5 linked regions of the Homo sapiens genome follow. The protein of the gene in region 1 interacts with the protein of each later gene in a pairwise test. Each region holds a gene or a part of one and is shown in the gene's direction. Other genes may lie near its edges.

The links.
Region 2: the proteins of ZNF124 (region 1) and SSX2IP interact in binary tests that used the Homo sapiens proteins (3 or more experiments, as listed by UniProt).
Region 3: the proteins of ZNF124 (region 1) and FSD2 interact in binary tests that used the Homo sapiens proteins (3 or more experiments, as listed by UniProt).
Region 4: the proteins of ZNF124 (region 1) and TRIM55 interact in a two-hybrid assay, tested with the Homo sapiens proteins (one large-scale study listed by BioGRID and IntAct).
Region 5: the proteins of ZNF124 (region 1) and TSGA10 interact in binary tests that used the Homo sapiens proteins (3 or more experiments, as listed by UniProt).

Annotation. Positions count from the first base shown.
Region 1 is NC_000001.11:247,158,072-247,162,627, reverse strand, and holds part of ZNF124 (zinc finger protein 124), read left to right. Parts: intron 1-2,814; coding exon 2,815-2,941; intron 2,942-3,561; coding exon 3,562-3,622; intron 3,623-4,556. UniProt on the Homo sapiens protein: May be involved in transcriptional regulation.
Region 2 is NC_000001.11:84,651,976-84,656,531, reverse strand, and holds part of SSX2IP (afadin- and alpha-actinin-binding protein), read left to right. Parts: intron 1-47; coding exon 48-184; intron 185-526; coding exon 527-700; intron 701-943; coding exon of another isoform or gene 944-1,067; intron 1,068-4,534; coding exon 4,535-4,556. UniProt on the Homo sapiens protein: Belongs to an adhesion system, which plays a role in the organization of homotypic, interneuronal and heterotypic cell-cell adherens junctions (AJs).
Region 3 is NC_000015.10:82,795,515-82,800,070, reverse strand, and holds part of FSD2 (fibronectin type III and SPRY domain-containing protein 2), read left to right. Parts: intron 1-3,704; exon of another isoform or gene 3,705-3,821; intron 3,822-4,556.
Region 4 is NC_000008.11:66,153,573-66,158,128, forward strand, and holds part of TRIM55 (tripartite motif-containing protein 55), read left to right. Parts: intron 1-474; coding exon 475-762; intron 763-2,050; coding exon of another isoform or gene 2,051-2,138; intron 2,139-4,556. UniProt on the Homo sapiens protein: E3 ubiquitin ligase that plays an important role in regulating cardiac development and contractility, muscle growth, metabolism, and fiber-type differentiation.
Region 5 is NC_000002.12:99,144,626-99,149,181, reverse strand, and holds part of TSGA10 (testis-specific gene 10 protein), read left to right. Parts: intron 1-833; exon of another isoform or gene 834-918; intron 919-1,688; exon of another isoform or gene 1,689-1,780; intron 1,781-2,059; exon of another isoform or gene 2,060-2,155; intron 2,156-4,556. UniProt on the Homo sapiens protein: Plays a role in spermatogenesis. When overexpressed, prevents nuclear localization of HIF1A.

The DNA of each region.
Region 1 (4,556 bases):
TTTTTTTTTGCCAAGGGTTAATATATTTTATATATAAGTAAAGATATACAGTCATACATTGCTTAATGTGTTGTTAGGCAGTTTTATAGTGAGAACATAATAGCGTGTACTTACGCAAACCTAGATGGCATAATATACCACACACCTAGGCTATATGGTATGGCCTATTGCTCCTAGATTTACTTTTTTCTGTTTTCCATTTGTGTTGTAGATTTTTCTCTATCTCTTTACTTTGAATGTGTGGGCGTCATTGCATGTGAGATGGGTCTCTTGAAGACAGCATACGATTGGTTTTGTTTCTCTATCCAGCTTGTCATTTTGCCTTTTAATTGGGGCATTTAGCCCATTTACATTCAAGGTTACTATTCATATGTGTAGATTTGATCTTGTTATTGTGTCGTTAGCTAGTTATTATGCAGACTTGTTTGTATGCTTGCTTTATAGTGTCACTGGTCTATGTACTTACGTGTGTTTTTGTGGTGGCTGTTAATGATCTTTCCATATTTAGCACTACCTTTAGGAACTCTTATAAGGCAGATCTAGTGGGAACAAATTCTCTTAGTAGTTGCTTGTCTGAAAATGATTATGAAGCTTCTTTTGGCTGGATGGGAAATTCATGGTTGGAATTTCTTTTCCTTAAGAATGCTGAATATAAACTCTGATAATGCACAATAAATTTTCTGGACATTAGAGAAAAATTACTGGACTGTAGATTGTGGTAAAGTTCAAATTACTGGAAATAGCAATGGAGTATATCCACTGCCTTGGCCTTCATTTCTGCGTATTTATTTGGTGTGGTAATCACCACTTGAGATTCTCTAATTTTTGTTCTTCTAAAGAATGTGGACTATTATTTACTATTATTATTATAGTAATATGCCATATTATTTGGCTGTTTTATTACCAAGAAAATGGATCTCTTTCCATAAATGGTCTTTTTTCTTGTTATGTATCTTTTGCTTTTTTTTCCCATTTTTTAATCATGTTTTCATTCATTTTTACTGTGCACACTAATTTCTTTTATATTGCATGTATTGCAGATTTTTATTTTACTGTTTTTTGTCTTTTAATTCTCCTAATTTTAATATATTTGAATTTGTCAGTCTCTATTGTTTGCTCCTTTTCTCCTATTCATATGTCAAAAAAAACCTTGTCTGTGACTTCTGCAAGTGGTCTATTTATACTTTTTACTTTTGAATATATGACAAATTGATTATTGTCCAACTAATAGAGGTCAATGCAATTCATTTTTTTCCCAATTAAATACCGGTTAGCTTTGTTCCATGTTTAAAGTGCTTGATACTTCCTTCACTATCCTACAATGCCTCCTCTGTTATTAGTCAGCTTTCCATATCAATTCCAGCTAATTAAAGACTATATGCCTTTCTCTTGGCCTAGTTCTTTATCTCTCTGCTTATACTACACTGCCCTGAATATTATATTTGAAAATCATTGATGTGTATTAGGCAAACCATCACACTGTTATTCAGAAGACTTTGACGGTTGTTAGGCGTTTGTTATTTCTGTAGGTTTTGAAAAGTAGTTTCTGCTGAACTGCTAGAAAGTCTGTTTCAGGCATCTATGAAATTTTACATAAATATCATTTGTAAGAGGTGACATCTAGATGACATTGAGTTTTTTTCTTTGAACGCATGCCTTTTCACTTATTCTATTCTGCTTTGACATTTTTCAGTAGAAATTGTAAAATAATTATTTTTGGATTATTGAATATTGATTATTAGTGTTAATTACCTCTTGATTAAATTTGGGCTTGAGTGAAGCACTTATAAGCTTCTACACATTTTCTCTTTGTGTAACCACGTGGATTGGGCTCAATTTCCCAATTAAAAAGTTGTGACATCATATATGAAATATTATCTACCAGGGAAGCTCATCAGATACTCAGTGCTCAGAGTGTGTTTTTGTTTGTTTATTGAGGCTGATCCCCCTAGGCACCACTGCTACAATAAAACAAAATAATAGACTTTTGGAAGGAAAACAGGGGTTCAGCAAATACCAGATTGTTTAGATAAACTATTTAGCAACAGTGAGCTACTTTTATCACTTAGGTTGTTGGGATGCCTCTTAAAATGTAAGTTCCCTCATACCAGCAAAGGTTGAACTTTGTAGCAGGTATTTCTAAGGGTAAGTAGTCTTGTGACGGCTCATATTAACTCTCTTATGCACACCAGATAGTAAGACTTTGATATGATATGTACTGCAGGTATATGCTATAAAGAAAAATCATAACAGCAAATATTACTCCCTGGACCCACCAACAAGAAGGGTGTTCCTTCTCTGCTGCTGCCTTGCTGAACAGTTCAACTTTAGCATAAGAACTGCTGGCTGAGCGCGGTGGCTCACGCCTGTTATCCCAGCACTTTGGGAGGCCAAGACAGGCAGATCACGAGGTCAAGAGATCGAGGCCATCCTGGCCAACATGGTGAAATCCTGTCTCTACTAAAAATACAAAAATTAGCTGGGCGTGGTGACATGTGCCTGTAGTCCCAGCTACTTGAGAGGCAGAGGCAGGAGAATCACTTGAGCCTGCGAGGCGAAGATTGCAGTGAGCTGAGACGGTGCCACTGCACTCCAGCCTGGCAACAGAGTGAGACTCCGTCTCAAAAAAAAAAAAAAAAAAAAAAAAAGAACTGCTATGTGGGAGAAAGGAAGTGTAGACAGAGTCATAGTTCTAGTGACCAAATAGTAGAATAAATGTTCGCCACAGAATCAGATGAACATCTTATAAATTGACTACAGATTTCCAGTGCTTTCAGTCTCATCCATCCTCTACAAAAATGTGGAATATTTTAGAACTCGGTTGCCTTTGAGGATGTGGCTGTGAACTTCACCCAGGAGGAGTGGGCTTTGTTGGATCCTTCCCAGAAGAATCTCTATAGAGACGTGATGCAGGAAACCTTCAGGAATCTGGCTTCCATAGGTAAGAATCACAATATTTCTTCACTTAGTCAATCAGAAAGTAAGTGTTTCATGGTTTTCAATGTCATTCCATGATTTGGAATGTACAAAGGGAACACTTTGATGAGTGAATGAGGCATGGACCCAGTGTGCAATGACTCTTGTTTCTTAGTCTATTTTTTAATTGTGATAACAGAATACCTGATCCTGGGTAATTTACAAAAATAGTTTTATATTGGTTTATGATTCTAGTGGCTAGAAAGTCCAAGGTTGCATCTGGTAAGGACCTGATGCTACTTCAGCTCAGGGCATGAAGCAGAAGCAAGTGGGCATGTGCAAAGGGATCACAGCAAGAAAATAAGAGCAATTCTTGGGAGCTAAACTTGCTTTTATAACAACCTGCCCTCTGGCAACTAATTCAGTCTTGCAAGAGTAAGAGAAAACATGCATTCCCAAGCAAGGACATTAATCTATTAATAAGGAATCTGTACCCATAACACAAACAATGTTGCCATATTGATGACCAAATTACAGCATTCATTTTGGTGGGTACAAACCATATCCCCAACATAGCACCTAGAGTCTAGTAATTTTTCTATAATTTCAAATAATTTGTAATATATTTCTGGGTCTACATTTTAGGAAACAAAGGGGAAGACCAGAGCATTGAAGATCAGTACAAAAATTCTTCAAGAAATCTAAGGTAATTTGCCCTCACAAGAGGAAGCAGTCCCCCTTGGGGTCAATTGTAGTATATAATCATATGTTTAAAGCAAACAAGGCCAGGCATGGTGGCTCACACCTGTAATCCCAGCACTTTGGGATGCTGAGGTGGGCGGATCACCTGAGGTCAGGAGTTTGAGACCAGCCTGACCAACACGGCAAAAACCCGTCTCTACTAAAAATACAAAATTAGCCCAGTGTGATGGTGCATGCCTGTAATCCCTGCTGTTTGGGAGGCTGAGGCAGGAGAATTGCTTGAACCTGGGAGGCGGAGGTTGCAATGAGCTGAGGTTGTGCCATTGCACTCCAGCCAGGGAAACAAGAGCAAAACACCATCTCGGGGAAAAAAAAAAACCAAGCAAACAAAATAAATTAAGACAACATCAATTTATTCTCAAAGTTTTTACCAAAAATATATACTTCAATGTAACATGGATGTTAAATGTTTGCAAAATAGTTCACTTGAAAACAGTATTGTTTTAGTCTGCTTGCATTGCTATAAAGGAATACCTAGGCTGAGTAATTTATAAGGAAGAGTTTTATTTGGCTAATGGTTCTGCAGGCTTTATCAGAAGCATAAAGCCAGCATCTGCTTCTGATGAGGACCTCAGAGAGCTTCCAGTCATGGCAGAAGGGGAAGGGGAGCTGACATGTCACATGGGGAGAGAAGGAGCAAGAGAGAGAGAAAGGAAGTGCCAAAGTTTTTGGGGTTTTTTTGTTTTGTTTTGTTTTGTTTGAGATGGAGTCTCTCTCTGGTATCCAGACTGGAGTGCAGTGGTGCAGTCTTGGCTCACTGCAACCTCCGCCTCCCGGGTTCAAGTGATTCTCCGGACTCAGTCTCCCAAGTAGCTGGGATTACAGGAACATGCCACCACACCCAGCTAATTTTTGTATTTTTAGTAGAGACAGCATTT
Region 2 (4,556 bases), about 160 Mb from region 1:
TAAGTGGTGGCTATAAGACCTATGTCAACTTACTGATTTTGTCTTAGTTTCAAAGGTACACCTGGAAGGTTTTAATGATGAAGATGTAATCTCACGACAAGACCATGAACAAGAAACTGAAAAACTCGAGTTAGAAATTCAGCAGTGTAAAGAAATGATTAAAACTCAGCAACAGCTTTTACAGGTGAATATGAATTACCTTTTAAAGCTGTTCTCCATGAAAAGCCAGAATTGTGCTGAACCTTACCAGATTTGTATTCCTTTATTTCATAAGGCCCTGGTATTTGACAGATTTCTAGTCTGTGTTCCCTGCTAACAGATACATTGTGTACCACTCCTTAAATAGTCCATACTTTGCTAGTTGGGGTAGTAGGTTTCGGGAAATGAGAATTCTCATTTGACTTTTTGATTCTTAATAATTTCTATTCCTGCCCTGAAGTTTGACTGGCCTTCCCTTGCTTTCATTTCAACTCGTTGGAGTGTCGCAAGGTCCCTCAGGAACTTACTATGTTTTAAATTTTAATAGCAGCAGCTCGCTACTGCATATGATGATGATACCACTTCACTATTACGAGACTGTTATTTGTTGGAAGAAAAGGAACGTCTCAAAGAAGAATGGTCCCTTTTTAAAGAGCAGAAAAAGAATTTTGAGAGGGAGAGACGAAGCTTTACAGAAGCCGCTATTCGCCTGGGATTGGAGGTATTTTAAACAATTGTAGTGCTTTTGAAAATACTGGGGGTGGGTGGGCCTCAGTAGAATGCTTCTAAGGTCTCCTTTTTTTCTTGCTATTTACTTATTTTCTAAAATATTTACTGGTGATCTCACAAATAATTTGAAATGAGAGGGAGGCTGAGCATATAGAATGGGATCATTTCCCCTTACCAGATTTGAGAATTGAACTTAAGAAAAAAAAACGCTATAAGCATTTATTACTGCTTTCAGATTGGCTTTCTCCTGCTAAGTGTTTTACACAAGAAATCTCTTTTGGGTATCCATCATTCATCCACGGTCAGTAGGTGTGGTGTCAGAAGACAGTGCAACCAAGACTATATTTGCTGTTTAAAAAGGAAGTATAATAAAAAATTAAGTTCTCTTCTCCCCAGTCCATCATTGTTATATATACGCTCTACAGCTTGCTTTTTTTACTTAGCAATGTGTCATCTACATATTCCCCCTTCAAAAATTGTAGCAGTAATGTCTGAATAAGGTTAAAAAAAAAAAATCAACAAAACTCATTAAAAAAAGCTACAAAGTAAGAAAGTATCCTCCTTTCTCATCCTCAGTTTCATTCCTTAGAGGTAACTGCTGTTAAAAAGTATCTGTTGGAAATTCTTCTAGGAAGTACTATTTTAACTTTTAATGTATTTCAAGTTTTCTTGTTTATCAGTTCATTGATTCCCTGCTATGAAAGATAAGGAATTCTGTGTCCTTATTGTACCTCCTACCTACACCCTTCCTCATTCACATCTCATGTCTTCATAATATTGTTCCTCTTGTTCGTCTGCTTGCCTTTTTTTTGCTTTAAGGAAATAATAAAAAGCTTCCATTTCATGTTTGTTCAACTTCAGTCAGTATCAGTTCATCCCTGCAGTGAAAGCTGAGGACTTTCTTGTTGTTACTCTTGTTCTACCTCTCTTGCTGTACTACTTTGCAATTTTTGTGATATTATTTTTCATTGTTATCACATTCATAGTTTGTCCTCTAATACAATCCAGGTATAAGTACTTTGTCTAAACTTGAGACTTAAAAGTTGGAAAACCAGGAAAGAAAATTGATAATACTACAATTATGTAAATGTTATTCTATAACCAAATATGTTTGGACACAGAAAATATTCTGTATTATTAAGACTTTGCCACCCAGAGAGATATATCACTATCTAGTGAATTCTTTTTCTCTGTAGCTTCCTTTGTGATTTCCTGAATCAGATTTCAGCTGCCATGTTGCTCATATCTCATGTTACTGTCTTTCTTGGGTTTCTGTTCAATTCGCTATATTAGTAATTGAGTAATTACTAATTCTTGAGTAATTTTTTTTTTATAAATAGTGCATGAGCTGTAAACATTCTGAATTCTGGAATAGTCAAAAATATATTCATACTTGATTGGTTTGGCTGTGTATAGAATTTAGATTCCAGTTTTTTTTCCTTCAAAACTTTGAATTATTCCATTTCTCCTAGTGTTTAGTTTTACTGATGAGAAGCCTGATTGTAATATACCTGTGTTACTTTGTAGATAACTGTGTTTTGTTTTCTATCTCCCTCTGTGGAAGCTTTGGTATTTTCTTAAAGTTTGGAAATTTTACCAGGATACTTCTAGAGAGTTCCTTTCATCCTAAAGATTCTGTATTTCTTTAATTTAGGGAAATTTTCTTCTTTATTTTTTCCTTCTTTGACTTCTCTGTGTTCTGGAACTTTTGTTAGACACACATTTGGCCTTCTGAATATATATCTACAGGTTGACTTTTGTTCTCAATTCTGGGATATTCTCTTACCTTTATCTTAGAGATCACGAAACTGGCCTTTCAGGGTCAGTTTTATTATTTGCTTTAGCCACTGAGTCTTTGCTTCAGAATTTATCTTTAAATTTTTCTAATGTCCTTAATTTTTGCTTTTCTTTATATAGCATGATGGTATTTTACAGATGTTTATTAATCTGATAATATTTGTTACATTTTTAAAAAAGATTTCTTTCATCTGTTGAATTATCTCTTATCCATGGTCAGTTTTCTATTTATCTTGACCTTTTTTCTATATTAGTTTTCTCAATGTTTGGTGATGCGTGATTCTGTATCAATATTTATGAATGAAAGACTGTGTGTTGCTTGTTTTCAGTAGCTGACGTGGATTTCCTCAGTTCACAGTGTGAACGTCTGTTTCATCAGTAGCTATCTTCAGGGAACAACACTTGACCAGCATTGTCTCCTACCTGTTTCCAAGCCCTTATTCCCCACATTACTCCAAGAGAGTAATTACTCTTGCTACTTTGCATATTGCTCCCAGTTGCCAGGTGCCTTTCCCTGCAAGAGAATTTTTCTCCGTCTGGTCACTGGGACAGTGGGCATAGTGAGGGATGGGAGGGAGGCATGCAAGACCTGAGGGCTGATGGAGAATTTAGTTTAGGATTCATCAGCTATTCAGAAGGGGGAGGTTTGACATAATTTGCCTATGCCCTCTTGTGGTTTAGTGGTGGTGGCTACCAGTACTGGTAGATGGCTAGAGGATGAGAGAAATGCTTGATGAAGTCATAGGTCCTGTTTTTCAAGTGACTAATTTACAATATAGATTATTTTTCTTTTGTTTGTAACTTTATAATGTTTTGTATGTTCAAAAGTTATGCTAATATTCTGTTCCATTTTTTGCATTGTTTATTTGAACTTAAAATTGATATGAAGACAGTGATGGTTGGTTTATTAGGTGAAACAGATGAATTTCTATTTTTTAAACATAATTTTTTCGTAAGTGAAATTTTTCTTAGTTTTTTTGTTTTTGTTTTTTTTTGAGATGGAGTCTCACTCTGTTGCCCAGGCTAGAGTGCAGTGGCGTGATCTTGGCTCACTGCAGGCTCTGCCTCCTGGGTTCATGCCATTCTCCTGCCTCAGCCTCCTGAGTAGCTGGGACTACAGGCACCCGCCACCACACCCGGCTAATTTTTTTTGTTTTGTATTTTTAGTAGAGACGGGGTTTCACCATGTTAGCCAGGATGGTCTCGATCTCCTGACCTCGTGATCCACCCGCCTTGGCCTCCCGAAGTGCTGGGATTACAGGCGTGAGCCACCGTGCCCGGCCGTGTTTTGCTTTTTGAGATGGAGCCTTGCTTTGTTGCCCAGGCAGGAGTGCAGGGGTGCGATCTCAGCTCACTGCAACCCCTGCCTCCTGGGTTCATGTGATTCTCCTGCCTCAGCCTCCTGAGTAGCTGGGACTACAGGCGCACGCCACCATGCCCGGCTAAATTTTGTATTTTTAGTAGAGATGGGGTTTCACCATGTTGGCCAGACTGGTCTCAAACTCCTGACCTTGTGATCCGCCCACCTTGTCCTCCCAAAGTGCTGGGATTACAGGCATGAGCCACTGCGCCCGGCTTTTTTTTTTTTTTTTTTTTTTTTTTTGGAGATACGGTCTTGCCGTGTCACCTAGGCTAGAGTGCAGTGGTGCTATCTCGGCTCACTTCAGCGTCAACTTCCCAGCCTCTAGCCATCCTCCCTCCTCAGCCTCCAAAGTAGCTGAGACTGTAGTCCTGTGCCACCATGCCCAGCTGATGTTTGTATTTCGTGTAGAGACAGGGTTTTGCCGTGTTGCCTAGGCTGGTTTGGAACTCCTCAGTTCAAGTGCTCCACCAACCCTCAGCCTCCCAAAATACTGGGATTACAGACGAGTGCTGAAATTATTTTTAGTTTTTTAGGTTAACTCATTTGACATAAGAAGTACGAATAGATAGCCAGAGAGCAAACAAAGATAGCTAGAGCAATCATGTGAAATGGCAACTGTGTGGATGTTGAAATATTGATCATTATTTCTTTGGCTGTTTATGGTAGAGAAAGGCATTTGAAGAAGAAA
Region 3 (4,556 bases), on another chromosome or scaffold:
AATAAAGGCTGAGGAAGAGGGATGAAACTGGAGGCTTACAGCAGGAATGTCCAGGGAGGGCAGAGGGAAGGGCAGGCAGTCAGTTCAGGACATCACAGACATTCATGGCCAGAGTGTAGAGAGGCTGAAGAAGGTGGGTTTTCTGGAAGACTGTCCCAACCTCTCACGGGCCAGCTGGGCATCCAGGCATCTTCTACCTTACAAGGTAGACCAGCAGAATAGGCACCATTTAGAGATTTAGAAATGCAGTTTTCCAGACCTCACTCTAGACTTTCTGACTCTACGTTTAACCAGAACCCCAAGGCGACGTGTGTGCAGGAAAGTTTGAGAAACCTTATTGAGAGGAGGAGTTCTGGCAGGGCTGGTGGGAGGACACCCCACTAACAGGCAGCATGCAGGGGCTGCCGTGGAGGTGACGTCACACCACATGGTGAGTTGGGGAAAGAGAGAGGCAATGAGCTCCATCTGGCAGTGCTGAGTTTGAGGGGGCTGCTGGAGGGGGCTGCTCAAGACAGCAGCTGCACCTCTGAGCCTCTGCCTCTGCATGGGGCACAGGTTAGAGCCAGAGACATGGATTTGGAGCCCTCAGAAAAGACGGGGACATAGAAGCTGTGAGACTGGATGAGATCACCTAGAGCAAGTGGAGAGTGGGAAGAGGGCCTAGAATGGAGGTTAAGGGGATGCCTGCATATAAAGAGCAGCCAAGGGGAGGAACTTGGCAGAGATTTCAGCAGTCAGTGGCCTAGGGGAAATCCCAGCTGAGCCGGGGGACACAGAAGGGTCAATAGGATTGAATGGCATGGAGCAGTCAGGAGAGCACCAGACAGGGTCCATGAATTTCCAAATTAGGCCATGAGAAAATGTTATATTAAAAGGGCAATCAAAAGTGGAGATAGGCCAGGCGCATTGGCTCACACCTGTAATCCCAACATTTTGGGAGACCAAGGCGGGAGGATTGCTTAAGCAGGAGTTTGAGACCAGCCTGGGCAACATAGTGAGACCGTGTCTCTACAAAAATTACAAAAATTAGCCAGGCGTGGTGGTGCATGCCTGTGATCCCATCTGCTCAGGAGGCTGAGGTGGGAGGATTGTTTGAGCCCAGAAGGTCAAGGCTGCAGTGAGCTGAGATTTCACCACTGTGCTCCAACCTGGGCAACAGAGCAAGACCCTGTCTCAAAAAAAAAAAAAAAAACAAAACAGTGGAGATAGTGGAAAGAAAACTTAATGCCTTTTTAAAAATATAGTTTGGGAAGTGGCTATTAAAAGGACAGTCTATCAGCAGAAGTGACAGTCTATCACTGCAGAAAGTTAAACAGAGCTGATAGGGGAAGCCGACGAACTTGTTGACTTCTGTTTTCTGTGTACAACTGTGGAACAAATAGGGAAGACAAACAGCTGGCTGCTAACTTTGATCACATAAATGGAAGTTAAGGAAAACTGGATCATAAAAGTGATGGATAAGGAAAAAACAGTGCTAAACCATATCTTAAAATATTTTGCTTATTTTTCTCAAAACATTATATATATATGTCATGTTAAAATAGTTTAATAATATTAGTTTTTTTAAAAAAAGACATTAGATTTACCACAATTTTTTAATGGGGGTAGGCATTAGGAACTGGATTGTGATGATGGCTGCACAATTTGGGGAATTTACTAAAAATCATTGAATTGTGCACTTAAAACATGAATTTTCTTCCTTTCGTTCTTTCTTCCTTTCTATCTTCTGACAGGGTCTTGCTCTGTCACCCAGGCTGGAGTGCAGTGGCAAGATAATAGCTCACTGCAGCCTCAATCTTCCAAGCTAAAGTGATCCTCCCACCTTAGCATCCCGAGTAGCTGGGACTGCAGGCACACACCACCACGCTGGGCTAGTTTTGTTTTTTGATTTTTAAATAGAGGTGAGGTTTCTTTTTGTTGCCCAGGCTGGTCTCGAACTCCTAAGCTCAAGTGGTCCTCCCACCTTTGCCTCCCAAAGTGCTTGGATAACGGGTGTCAGCCACTGTACCTGACCTGTAATATTTTTCTGTGCTTGGAAAGTCTTTTGTTGGTCATCTATGATACTTCTCTACAAAAATACAGATGTATAACTTGAGATGAAAGATTTTCTCTTGTTCTCCTGGGACCATACATCTCTGAATATTAAACTCTTTTTTTCTTTTGGATGAAGTTACCAATACAACTTTTAATCACATGTAAGCAAAATAACATAAACATATTACAAATTTTGGTAAATAATAATAATTATTATTGTTATTTTTGAGATGGAGTCTCGCTCTGTCGCCCAGGCTGGAGTGCAGTGGCGTGATCTTGGCTCACTGCAACCTCCGCCTCCCAGGTTCACGCCATTCTCCTGCCTCAGCCTCCCAAGTAGCTGGGACTACAGGCGCCCGCCACCACGCCCGGCTAATTTTTTGTATTTTTAGTAGAGATGGGGTTTCACCGTGTTAGCCAGGACGGTTTCGATCTCCTGACCTCATGATCTGCCCGCCTCGGCCTCCCAAAGTGTTGGGATTACAGGCGTGAGCCACCACGCCTGGCCAATAATTGTTAAATGAAAAATAAAATGGAAATGCATCTCTTAATGAGGTAGATGGAGCTTTTTTAAAAAAAGTTTATTTGTGTATCCATTGATGAAAATTACATATTTTAGACTGCAACAGGAATTAGGGTCAATTGTCTTTCCGCTTTTCATTTTGTTGATGTAAGAACAGAGCAACCTTGCTTAGCTACGTAATCAAACATTGATGGAAATGAAAGTGTTTTATTATAGCAATGTCACTCACATTTTTGAACTCTTTCTGAAATGTGTTTCAAAAAGTACATAGTGATCTATCATGAAAAATTATTTTTAATCATATATTAGCTGACAATTTGATTAGATCCTCCTTCAACTTTATTGAAAGCAAAGAACTGGAAACCACTTAGCTTGAAAACAAATTTTTTCTTATGCATTCATTAATGTCATTCACCCTCCACCATTGATAGCAATACTTCAAATTGTCCTTCCATTTAGTCCCCTGGAGGTGTTTTTTTTTTTTTTTTTTTTTAATTACCAAGCAATGAAATCTTACAGTGCAATGAAATATTCAGGATAAGTGAGAGGTATAGTTTTACTTTTGTAATAAAGAGAAAAAGGACTATTGTGAAAAAAGAATCTACATGAAGCCTCAAATGCTAGTTCCTTCCCAGGCAGAGCAGCTCTGGGAAAGATTAAATATAAAGTTGAGCATCTGGGAGCTGATCCTCCTGAAGCTATCTATACCATGTACCCCTTGGAAAGTCTTCGCATACAGATTCCATAGCCTGAAGAGTGATGGTGGAAATGCCACCCTTTGATGGAGTCTGGAGAGGGAAAGGGGAGAAAGAGAGAATAGCAGCTAGCAGAGAAAGCTGGGTGGAAAGTTTATTTTTAGTCTGGGACAATGAACTAGTCATCTATTGTGGCATAACAAATTATTTCAAAACTTGACAGCTTAAAACAACAAATATTTATTCTCTTGAATCGTTTCTGAGGGTCAAGAACCTGAGAACAGTTCGTCTGGGTGATTGTGGCTCAGAGTCTCTCATGAGGCCTGGTGACCACTTTCCGTTGGTTCTCCTAATACGTCTTATGCCCGCAGCAATGCTGCCAACTTCTTCAGCTCACCTGCCAGCCAACCTTGGTTCACCTGTGTTTCCATATGTTTTTCTTGCTTTTACAGCCACTGGGGACCAGCTCTGGCCAGGACAATTCCGTTTGCCATGATGTGGGTTGAAATCACAACTTCTCCCGGGCGCAGTGGCTCACGCCTCTAATCCCAGCACTTTGGGAGGCCAAGGTGGGTGGATCACAAAGTCAGGAGTTTGAGACCAGCCTGGACAACATGGTGAAACCCCGTCTCTACTAAAAAATACAAAAATTAGCTGGATGTGGTTGCGGATGCCTGTAATCCCAGCTACTTGGGAGGCTGAGTCAGGAGAATCACTTGAAACCAGAAGGCGGTGGTTGAGTGAGCAGAGATCGCGCCACTGCACTCCAGCCTGGGCAACAAGCACAAAACTCCATCTCAAAAAAAAAAAAAAAAAAAGAAAAGAAAAAGAAAAGGAAATCAAAACTTCTTCTATGACATTTGAACTCCCTGTGAAGTTTATCCTGTGTTACAGTTTTTCTCTCAGTCTTAGAGTATCCTTTAGTGTCCTCTTCATAATTACTCTCCTATCATAACTCACCTATCATCTAATACTTTTTTTTTTTTTGAGATGGAGTCTCGCTCCATCACCCAGGCTGAGGTGAAGGAGTGCAATCTCAGCTCACTACAACCTCCGTCTTCTGGGCTCAAGAGACCCTCCTACCTCAGCCTCCTGAGTAGCTGGGATTACAGGCGTGTGCCACCACGCCTGGCTAATTTTTTTGTATTTTTGGTAGAGATGGGTTTTCACCATATTGCCCAGGCTGGTCTCAAACTCCTGAGCTCAAATGATCTGCCCACCTTAGCCTCCTAAAGTGCTGGGTTTACAGGCGTGAGCCACTGTACCTGGCCTAATACTCCTTTAGAGTGAAATGTCTTCCTCTG
Region 4 (4,556 bases), on another chromosome or scaffold:
TTTTTAAATTCTGAGCATTTCAGTTGTATTAAAATTGAAAGAGGTATAGTAACTAAGTGAGGGTTGGATTTGATCAATAAGATTAATTTTTGTTTTTTATAATGAGGTTTTTGGGACTCACGTATAAAGCCAACAAATTATTCTAGTCAATAGTTTGACCCTTTTCCCATATCTGATATTTTATAACCAACATTCACTGAGGTTTCTGCTCTCTGCCTGCCTGGGCTCCCAGTGAGTGAAAGACAAGCTCAGAAAAGAAGAGGGCACCCATCCAGATGCTGGACAGAGGGGCACTGTAGTCACCATTCTGCCCTTAGCGCTTCTGGAGGGTGGGATGAACTAAAACGGCCACCAAGGCACTGCATGCAGGGAGCGCACAGTGTTCAAACCCAAAGGGAACTAAAATCAACTGCTTTTTCTTCTTCTTCTTCTTTTTTTTTTTCTTTACTTTTGAATTTATCTGTCCTGATTAAGGGGGAGGTTGTACCCACTGGCTCTGAGCAGACCACAGAGTCTGAAACTCCAGTCCCTGCAGCAGCAGAAACTGCGGATCCCTTGTTTTACCCTAGTTGGTATAAAGGCCAAACCCGGAAAGCCACCACCAACCCACCTTGCACCCCAGGGAGCGAAGGTCTGGGGCAAATAGGGCCTCCAGGTTCTGAGGATTCGAATGTACGGAAGGCAGAAGTGGCAGCAGCCGCAGCGAGTGAGAGGGCAGCTGTGAGTGGTAAGGAAACTAGTGCACCTGCAGCTACTTCTCAGGTTAGTGATGATGCACTTGTGTCTATGCTTTCCCGCGCCCCCTAGGGTCCCACTGGAACAGGCCACAGCAAGAAGAAAAAGGGTTTTCAAAGGGGCAGAGAGAAACCTCAGCCAGGGGAAAAGTACAGAAACAATTCATCCCCCAATGTTGGCTTGTTTTGAGCTCTATATAAAAGAAAACATAAAACAAAACAAATTTGAGTTCACTCTCCTGGTGCATGGTGACCTCACACCTGGCTTCCCAGGGGAGGGGTGCAAGTGAGCCTGGCCCTTAGGCATGCTACTGAGCGCTGCTTCATCTGCAGTGACTGGCTGTGTCCCCAGTCCTCCTTACCAACGGCCACTTGCCCTTGCTCAGCCTTCCCTGTGTCCTCCTTGGGCTTCTAAAGACTAATCCCCTGCTTTTGTGTCATTCCCAGCAACCCCCAAGGAGCACACTTGAGTTTTAAGTCTGTTCTGGAGAATAACCTCTGATTCATGGATTCTTGGAGTGTGCTGGCTACAGCTAGACAGAGACAGTCTTGGCTTGATTAAACCTGTGCTTCCTAAGCATGTACTCCTGGGAGTGGAAAAGCACAGGTGCTCCTCCACAGAGATTTTTTTCAAGAGACTCTTTCTTTATATGATGAGTTTGAAGTCCATGTCTTCCCCCTAACACTTGGTTAGATGTTTGCATGTCTTGAAGAGTCCACAGAAGAAATCTTTTACAATTTCTTCACAAGGAAGAATGTTCATGGTGACTCCATACTCATGAGCATTCTTAAATGATGTGTAGGGTGTGAGTGTTGCCCAGGCAAGAAGCTGCCAGAAAGCACTCTCCAGTTCCATGCTCCTGGGTCATCAGGTGATTGATTATGAACCACAAACAACATGTTCTCAAAAATCAGACAATGACTTATTATTTTGATTGTATCTGCCCAAGAGACTTCAATTCCATGAGGTAGTAAAAGGAAATGATTTTGGAAAATTAAAAGTAACATGCTTTGGGGTTGGATGTTTATTTTCACAGATAAAATGACAAAAATAAATGTTTGGTGGGAAGAAATCTTATGAGGTGGTTTTTAGGTAAAAGATGCAGTAGACTGATTATTTCTAGAAAATGTGTGGCAATTCTTATACATGGTAGTAGAAGCTGTGTGCGGAGGGGCTGTTTTCTGAAAACAGTAGTGCACTACCCCATGAAGAGCACGTAGTAGGGCTCAAGCCAAAATGAAAAGTCCATTGAAATAATGTTGAAAATAATTATTTGTGATAATATCAGTGAAGCTTTCTTCTTGTTTTCTCACAGGAGTTAGTAATCTGCCTAGCGCTTTTGGCTTTTCTTATTCTTCACTACATCTGGAGTCAGATTCAGTGCTTGATTTTTACTTTAATGGGTAGGAAATATTTTCTTTTCCCTTGACTAACATCTCACATAGTTTCTTCCATAATGTTCCTCTTCTATAGGCCCAGAGATTAATTTCTCCCCAAATCTTGAGGCTCAGTCCTCCCAAAAGAACATTGTTCTCAGATTATACTGGAGGCCTCAAGCTCACACAATGCAATCGCCTCAAGACCTCTTTCTGAGGAGAATTGCTCCATTATCTATTCCTGCATGGAGGGGAACCTTGACTGAGAACAGTAACTCCATGGGCAATTATTCAGTAATCCAGGAGGAGCAAACCCTCCAGAATGGTCATTAGGGGAGGCCAGTTTCAAGTGTCCATAATGCGGTGAGGACTTACTGCTCGTAGAGAAAGGAGCGGCAAAGGACTCCTGCAGGAAAATGCAGGTTTCCATAGATTAAGTACAAGCATTTCATCTGCTTACACCAGAGATGCCCAGGAGGTGGCCAAGTGACTCCTCGTGGGATGATGTTCTAGGCAGTTCCTATGCAGGTGAGCAGGTGGGTTCTCTTTGAACCCTCAGACTCTACAGAGTTTCTCCTGGGAGAGGAGGTCCCTGAGAGAAAGATGCCCTGACTGAAGAAATATCTGGGGGATTGCAGCCACGTGAGACCTGAATGAATTAACAGCCAGAGGATCAATGTGCACTTACCAGCTATCAGGAATTAGAACCAAGAACTAAGCCATAAAGTCATCAAGCAGTCCATTTATATTATTTCCGAGTCACCGTTCTCATAGCCAAGCCTTTGCTTGATTGCTGTTATGAGGTTTGCTTGAGGACTGACATCATAATCCTTTAATACCCTTTTGAAAGTTCTCAGTTTAATTAATAATATTTAAAGATTCCAACTTCCATGTACTTTTGTGTAAATGACCCTGCTGGGCCTGAGACCCAACTCCTTGTTCCTGTAGCTCAAAGGCAGTTCAGGGTCAATGGTGCTGAAAAGCCTCGGCTATTTCTGGCTCACTGACTTTTCCCTGGGTTGACACTGACTCTTCTGGAAGCTCCCTTCATAGACTTTCTGCCTCATTAGCCATCTGCTCAGCAATGGCGGTGGCGTCTCCATTGGTCTCTGCCGTGTCTGGAACTGTGTGTGAGCAGGACCTGCCCACAATGTCCAATAGTCAGCTGGAAACCTGTGCACCCTAGAGTGTCCTGAGTGTCCTTACAGTCTGCTCAGCTGCCCAACTCCTTCAGACATTATCTGTGGTAAAAAGGAGTGGGAGGATGTATTGGCCATGGACTCAGAGGGGTGAATGGTGAGAGAGAAAACTCCATGCTTTATTGGAACCAGGACCTAATTGTGGATCTGAATAATTGTCTGAAGGGTTCTGTTTACATTCTGAGAATTCGGGTTTAGGGCTTTGTCACTACATATATGTCTTGTATTGCTTCTCTGAGGCTGCAGAGGGAGTGTCATGCTTCAAGGCTGTGATCCACTGAGCCCATGTCATGTATGCTGACATCCACGTGCCTGCCTAGGGAGAGGAGGGTGGGGCAGGTGGAGCAGGTGTGGGGAGGGCGTTGACATCCAGTATTGCAAAAAACCTTACTGTATAGTTCTTGGTGTTTGAGGAAGGGCCTTTCACATAGAGAAGGACACCTGTTCATGATGGAGTACTACTCTTTGATCCCAGAAATGGGATATGGGCAGGTTGATAGAGACCTCACTATAGTAGCAAATTCCCGGCCTCTGAGAATATTTTGCAGGTCTGATTCACCTTCACCACTTCAGAACCCAGTTTACCAGATTCATATTTGTCCAGTTCAAGGTTAGAGTGCTAGAATTTCACATTTCATCACTAGGCTTACCTTGAGTATTTAGGATGTGGTAAGAGTTCTCTTTGATTCAGTGGTGGTCTTATCTCTCTTTACTAGGTGGTCCCGTGTCAGAGTAATGCTGCCTTTAAAACTCAGAAGCATCTCAGGCTCACTTGCTGATCTGTAAACTACATTCAGCCCACAACAGCTGAACTGCAAACCTTTTAGAAGCAAATGCTCTATTTCCTGGTGCTTTCCTTACATCCATGTACACAGTGAAACATGCCCTCGATTTTACTGCCTGTGGTTTCTGGTGCTGAACAATTTCTGCTTTATCACATACCTTACCTTCTCTCTTCACCCAAGTACACAGGCAAAAAAAACCGGTCATGGCAAAAACCAAACATCAGCTTCCTCTACGAGTGATGGACAGGACCACTACTTTTTGTTAGATCAGAAGAGTGCTGTAGCTCCCCCATGGGCATTCTCTAAGAAAAAGCAAGGTTTGGATTCAGCCTTGTGGTGAATTTGAACTCATCAAAGGCCCCAGTTTCCTTGGGCTTCTACAGGATCTCTATTTGGTGGATTAACTCAGCAGCTGCTCTGGCTGATACTTGAGCTGGACACAGCAGCTGCCTCAGGGTAAG
Region 5 (4,556 bases), on another chromosome or scaffold:
TTTTTTTTTTTTGAGATGGAGTTTCACCCTTTCACCCAGGCTGGAGTGAAGTGGTGCGATCTCGGCTCACTGGACCTCCACCCGGCAGGTTAAAGTGATTTTCCTGCCTCAGCCTCCTGAGTAGCTGGGATTACAGGTGCCCGCCACCAGGCCCAGCTAATGTTTGTATTTTTATTTTTATTTTTATTTATTTTTTTTCCAGTCTATATTTTATTTATTGTGGTAAAATATATATAACATTTACCATTTTAAACACTTTTAAGTGTACAATTCAATGACATTGAGTACATTTACATTTTTGTGCAAACATCATGGTCATCCATCTCCAGAACTTTTAATCATCCCAAACAGAAACTCTAACGTTTGTATTTTTAGTAGAGACGGGGTTTCCCCATGTTGACCAGGCTGGTCTTGAACCCCTGACCTCAGGTGATCCACCCACCTCAGCTCCCAAAGTGCTAGGATTACAAGCATGAGCCACTGCGCTCAGCCTCACCCACTTTTTAGAATGTATTATGTCTTTAATATTTACCTACTGTGGTATCTTTGATAGTTTACAATTTCATACTCATCAAGCTGTAATTACTGACTGAACATTTCTAAAGAATCATCTTGAAACCCTGTTTATCCATATTTGTGACTGAATATCAGTGTTTATAACAAAACAGAGTCCTGGGTCTACTGTAGTAGCCTAAATATAGTACTTACTCAAATATTAATATAACAATTAGGTAAATAGTATATATTTGGCTTTCTGGGACTCAAATACAACTTAGCTAAATTTTTTAATATCTCTGATGAAATTCTGAAATATGGGTATATTTGATTTTTAGATTTGGAACTTGAAGATGAATTTTTCTTCCTCATCAAAGGAATATCTAATACTGCCTTCAAATGAATAAAATTGAGTTTATTCTATTTGGTTTCTCTTTTTCTTAGAAAGGAAATACTCCTGTCAAATGCATAACTTGAATCTAAACATGAGGAAACAATCAGATAAACCCAAACAGAAGTATCTTCTATGAAACAAATAGCTTCTACCTAAAAATGTCAATGTTATGAAAGACACAGAGAGGCTGAGGAACTGTTTCAGATTAAAGGAGGCTAAAGATACATTATTTCAGATGCAACCAATGCTCTTGAATTGGGAAGGGGATGGAATGTACTACAAAGATCATTACTTAGATAACTGAAACATTTGGATATGGGACAATATTAGATAATAATATTGGATCAATGTGATAAATGCCATGAATATGATAATTGTATTGTGGTTATATAAGTCAATGTCCTTGTTCTTAGGAAATACATACTGAAATAGTTAGGGGTGAAGAATTGTATCTGCAACTTGCCCTCAAATTGTTTAGCAATAGATAGATAGATACATAGATACAGAAAGACAGTAAAATATGCAAAATGCTAACAACTGTTAAATCTAGGAGGTAAAGCTTAAAAAGTTGTTCTACATATTATTATTATTACATTTCTGTAGGTTTAAAACTTTTTCAAAATACAAAATTGAAAAAACGTTTTAAAAAACACAAAACTCTAAAACATGGCATTTGAAATCAACAAACGTAAAAGAATGGTAACATATAATTATCAATTTGCACATTAAACTTCAATCTAATAAAAGGACTGAGGAGGAACCAAGTATAATAGGGTAGACTTGGCCCTGTGAGTCTTACCTTAACTTCCCCAGAGTTGAGGACATGAAGGGTGAACAAGTCTATTGGGGGCCTCTTTGGACTGGCATTTAGGTTGCCATTCAAGAAGAAATCTGGAATATATATGTAAGAATAAAGGTACATAAAGAGATAAATCAATCTGGAGAAAAAGAACAAAGTGGCTTTCTTTACTAGATATTAAGATAGGCTACGCGGCTGGGCACAATGGCTCACGCCTGTAATTCCAGCACTTTGGGAGGCCAAGGTGGAAAGATCTCTTGAGTCCAGCAGTTTGAGACCAGCCTGGGCAACATAGGGAGACCTCATCCCTATCAGAAAAAAATTAAAAAAAACAAAAAGATATGCCACAAAGTGAAAGTAATAAAAATAACCTTGTACAGGTACAGGAACAAATAATCAGTAGAATATGACAGAGCTGTAACTTGGACTTAGGTATTTCAGGAACTTCACATATATCACAGGTGGCACTATAAGACAAAGGAGATAGAACAGACTAAGTTTAGTATGATGGTATCGTGAACATTGGCTAACTATGTGGACATAAGCAGGATCTTAAACACAGAAGTAGGCTGGGCGCGGTGGCTCACGCCTGTAATCCTAGCCCTTTGGGAGGCTGAGGTGGGCGGATCACGAGGTCAGGAGTTCGAGACCAGCCTGATCAACATGGTGAAACTCTGTCTCTACTAAAAATACAAAAATTAGCCAGGTGTGGTGGCGGGTGCCTGTAATTCCAGCTACTCAGGAGGCTGAGGCAGGAGAATCGCTTGAACCCAGGGGGTGGAGGTTGCAGTGAGCTGAGATCATACCATTGCACTCCAGCCTGGGCGACAGAGCAAGACTCCGTCTCAAAAAGAAAAAAAAGTGGAGTGCAAATGCATTAAAGACCTAAATGTGAATGGCAGAACTGTAAATGCAATAGAAGAAAATATCTGTTACCTTGGAGTGAAGAAAGATTTCTTGAACAAGACTAAAAAGCTTAAACAATAAGGGAGGAAAACAGTGAGTTTGATTACTCATAATTGAGAATTTCTATTCAATGAAAAAAATATAAACAAAAAGATAGATAAGAGACTGGAAGGAGATATTTTCTGTGTCCAAAGCTGATGGTATTTAATGGCTGGAATAAAAAGAGAACACCTAGAAATTAGCAAGGAAAAAGAAAACCCAATAGAAAAATGGGCAAAGGATATAAAAACATAATTCACAGATTGAGGAATCCCAAACAGATAATTAACTAGGAATCAGAGAAATTCAAGTTGCAAAGAAATTGCAACCTCCGCCTTTCTGGGTTCACATGATTCTCCTGCTGAGGCCTCCCGAGTAGCTGGGATTACAGGCACCTGCCACCATGCCCGGCTAATTTTTGTATTTTTAGTAGAGACGATGTTTCGCCATGTTGGCCAGGCTGGTCTCGAATTCCTGACCTCAAGTGATCTGCCCTCCTTGGCCTCCTAAAGTGCTTGGATTACAGCATGAGCCACCGTACCTGGCCACATCTGGCTAATTTTTAAAATTCATTTTTTTTGTAGAGACAGGGTGTCACTGTGTTGCCCAGGCTGGTCTCGAATGCCTGTACTCAAGCAATCCTCCCACTTCCCAAAGTGCTGGGATTACTGGCGTAAGCCACCATGCCTGGACTGGTTTGAACCTTTTATAACAAAACCCAGATCACAGCAGTCCTCTGCTCAACACACTCTAGTTGCTTCCCATATCAGAGAAAAAAATTATCTACATATCTGGTCCCCAGCTGTGGTAGGCAGAATAATAGTCTTCAAAGATGTCTTTGTCCTAATCCCCAGAAGCTGGGACTATGTTATGTTATGTGGCAAGGGGGAATTAAGGTTGCTAATCAGCTGACTCTGAGGGTGGGAAAATTCTCCTGGATTAATTGGGTGGTACTAATGTAATCACAAGGGTCTTTTTTTTTTTTCTTTTTGGGACAGAGTCTCACTCTGTTGCCCAGGTTGGAGTGCAGTGGTGTGATCTAGGGTGACTGCAGCCTCCGCCTCCTGGGTTCAAGTGATTCTCGTGCCTCAGCTCCCAAGTAGCTGGGATTACAGGTGCCTGCCACCACGATCAGTTAATTTTTGTATTTTTGGGGAGAGACAGGGTTTTGCCATGTTGAACAGGCTGGTCTTGAACTCCTGACCTCAAGTGATCCACCTGCCTTGGCCTCCCAAAATGCTGGGATTATAGGTGTGAGTCACCGCACCTGCCACACAAGAGTCTTTAGAAGTGAAAGAGGGAGGTAGAATGTGTTAGCCATGATGCAATGTGAGGAGGACTTGACTGGCCATTTTTGGCGTTGAATATAGACTGGGATCACAAGCCAAGGAACATGGGCTGCCAGTAGAAGCTGGAAAGGCAAGAAAGGGGATTTTCCCCTAGAGCCTCCAGAAGGAATGTAGACCTGCCTGACATCTTGATTTTAGCCCAGTGAGACCCAATTTGAACTTGTAAATCTCCAGAACCGTGTGATAATAAATTTGTGTTGCTTAAAGACACCAAGTGTGTGGTAAATTGTTGCACAGCCGTAGCAAACAACTCTACTAGCAAGCACTCTCTCCTGTCTCTTTGCCTTATTCGACCCCAGACCTATCACCCCATTGCTGTTCCTCAAGCATATTCTATGCCAAACCTTCTCCTGCTTCAGGACCTTTGCACTTACAGTTCCCCCAGCCTGAAGCAATTTTTGCATTGCAAACCACATCCCTTGAGGATAGTTAGTGACATGGGGCCTGGAACTGTGAAGAATGGCAGACTTCTGCTGCTAGTCATGATGGAGTAACAGAGACCAGACTTATCCTCATGCTTTCAGCATCTTTTTTTTTTTTTTTTTTTTTTGAGACAGAGTTTTGTTCTTGTCCC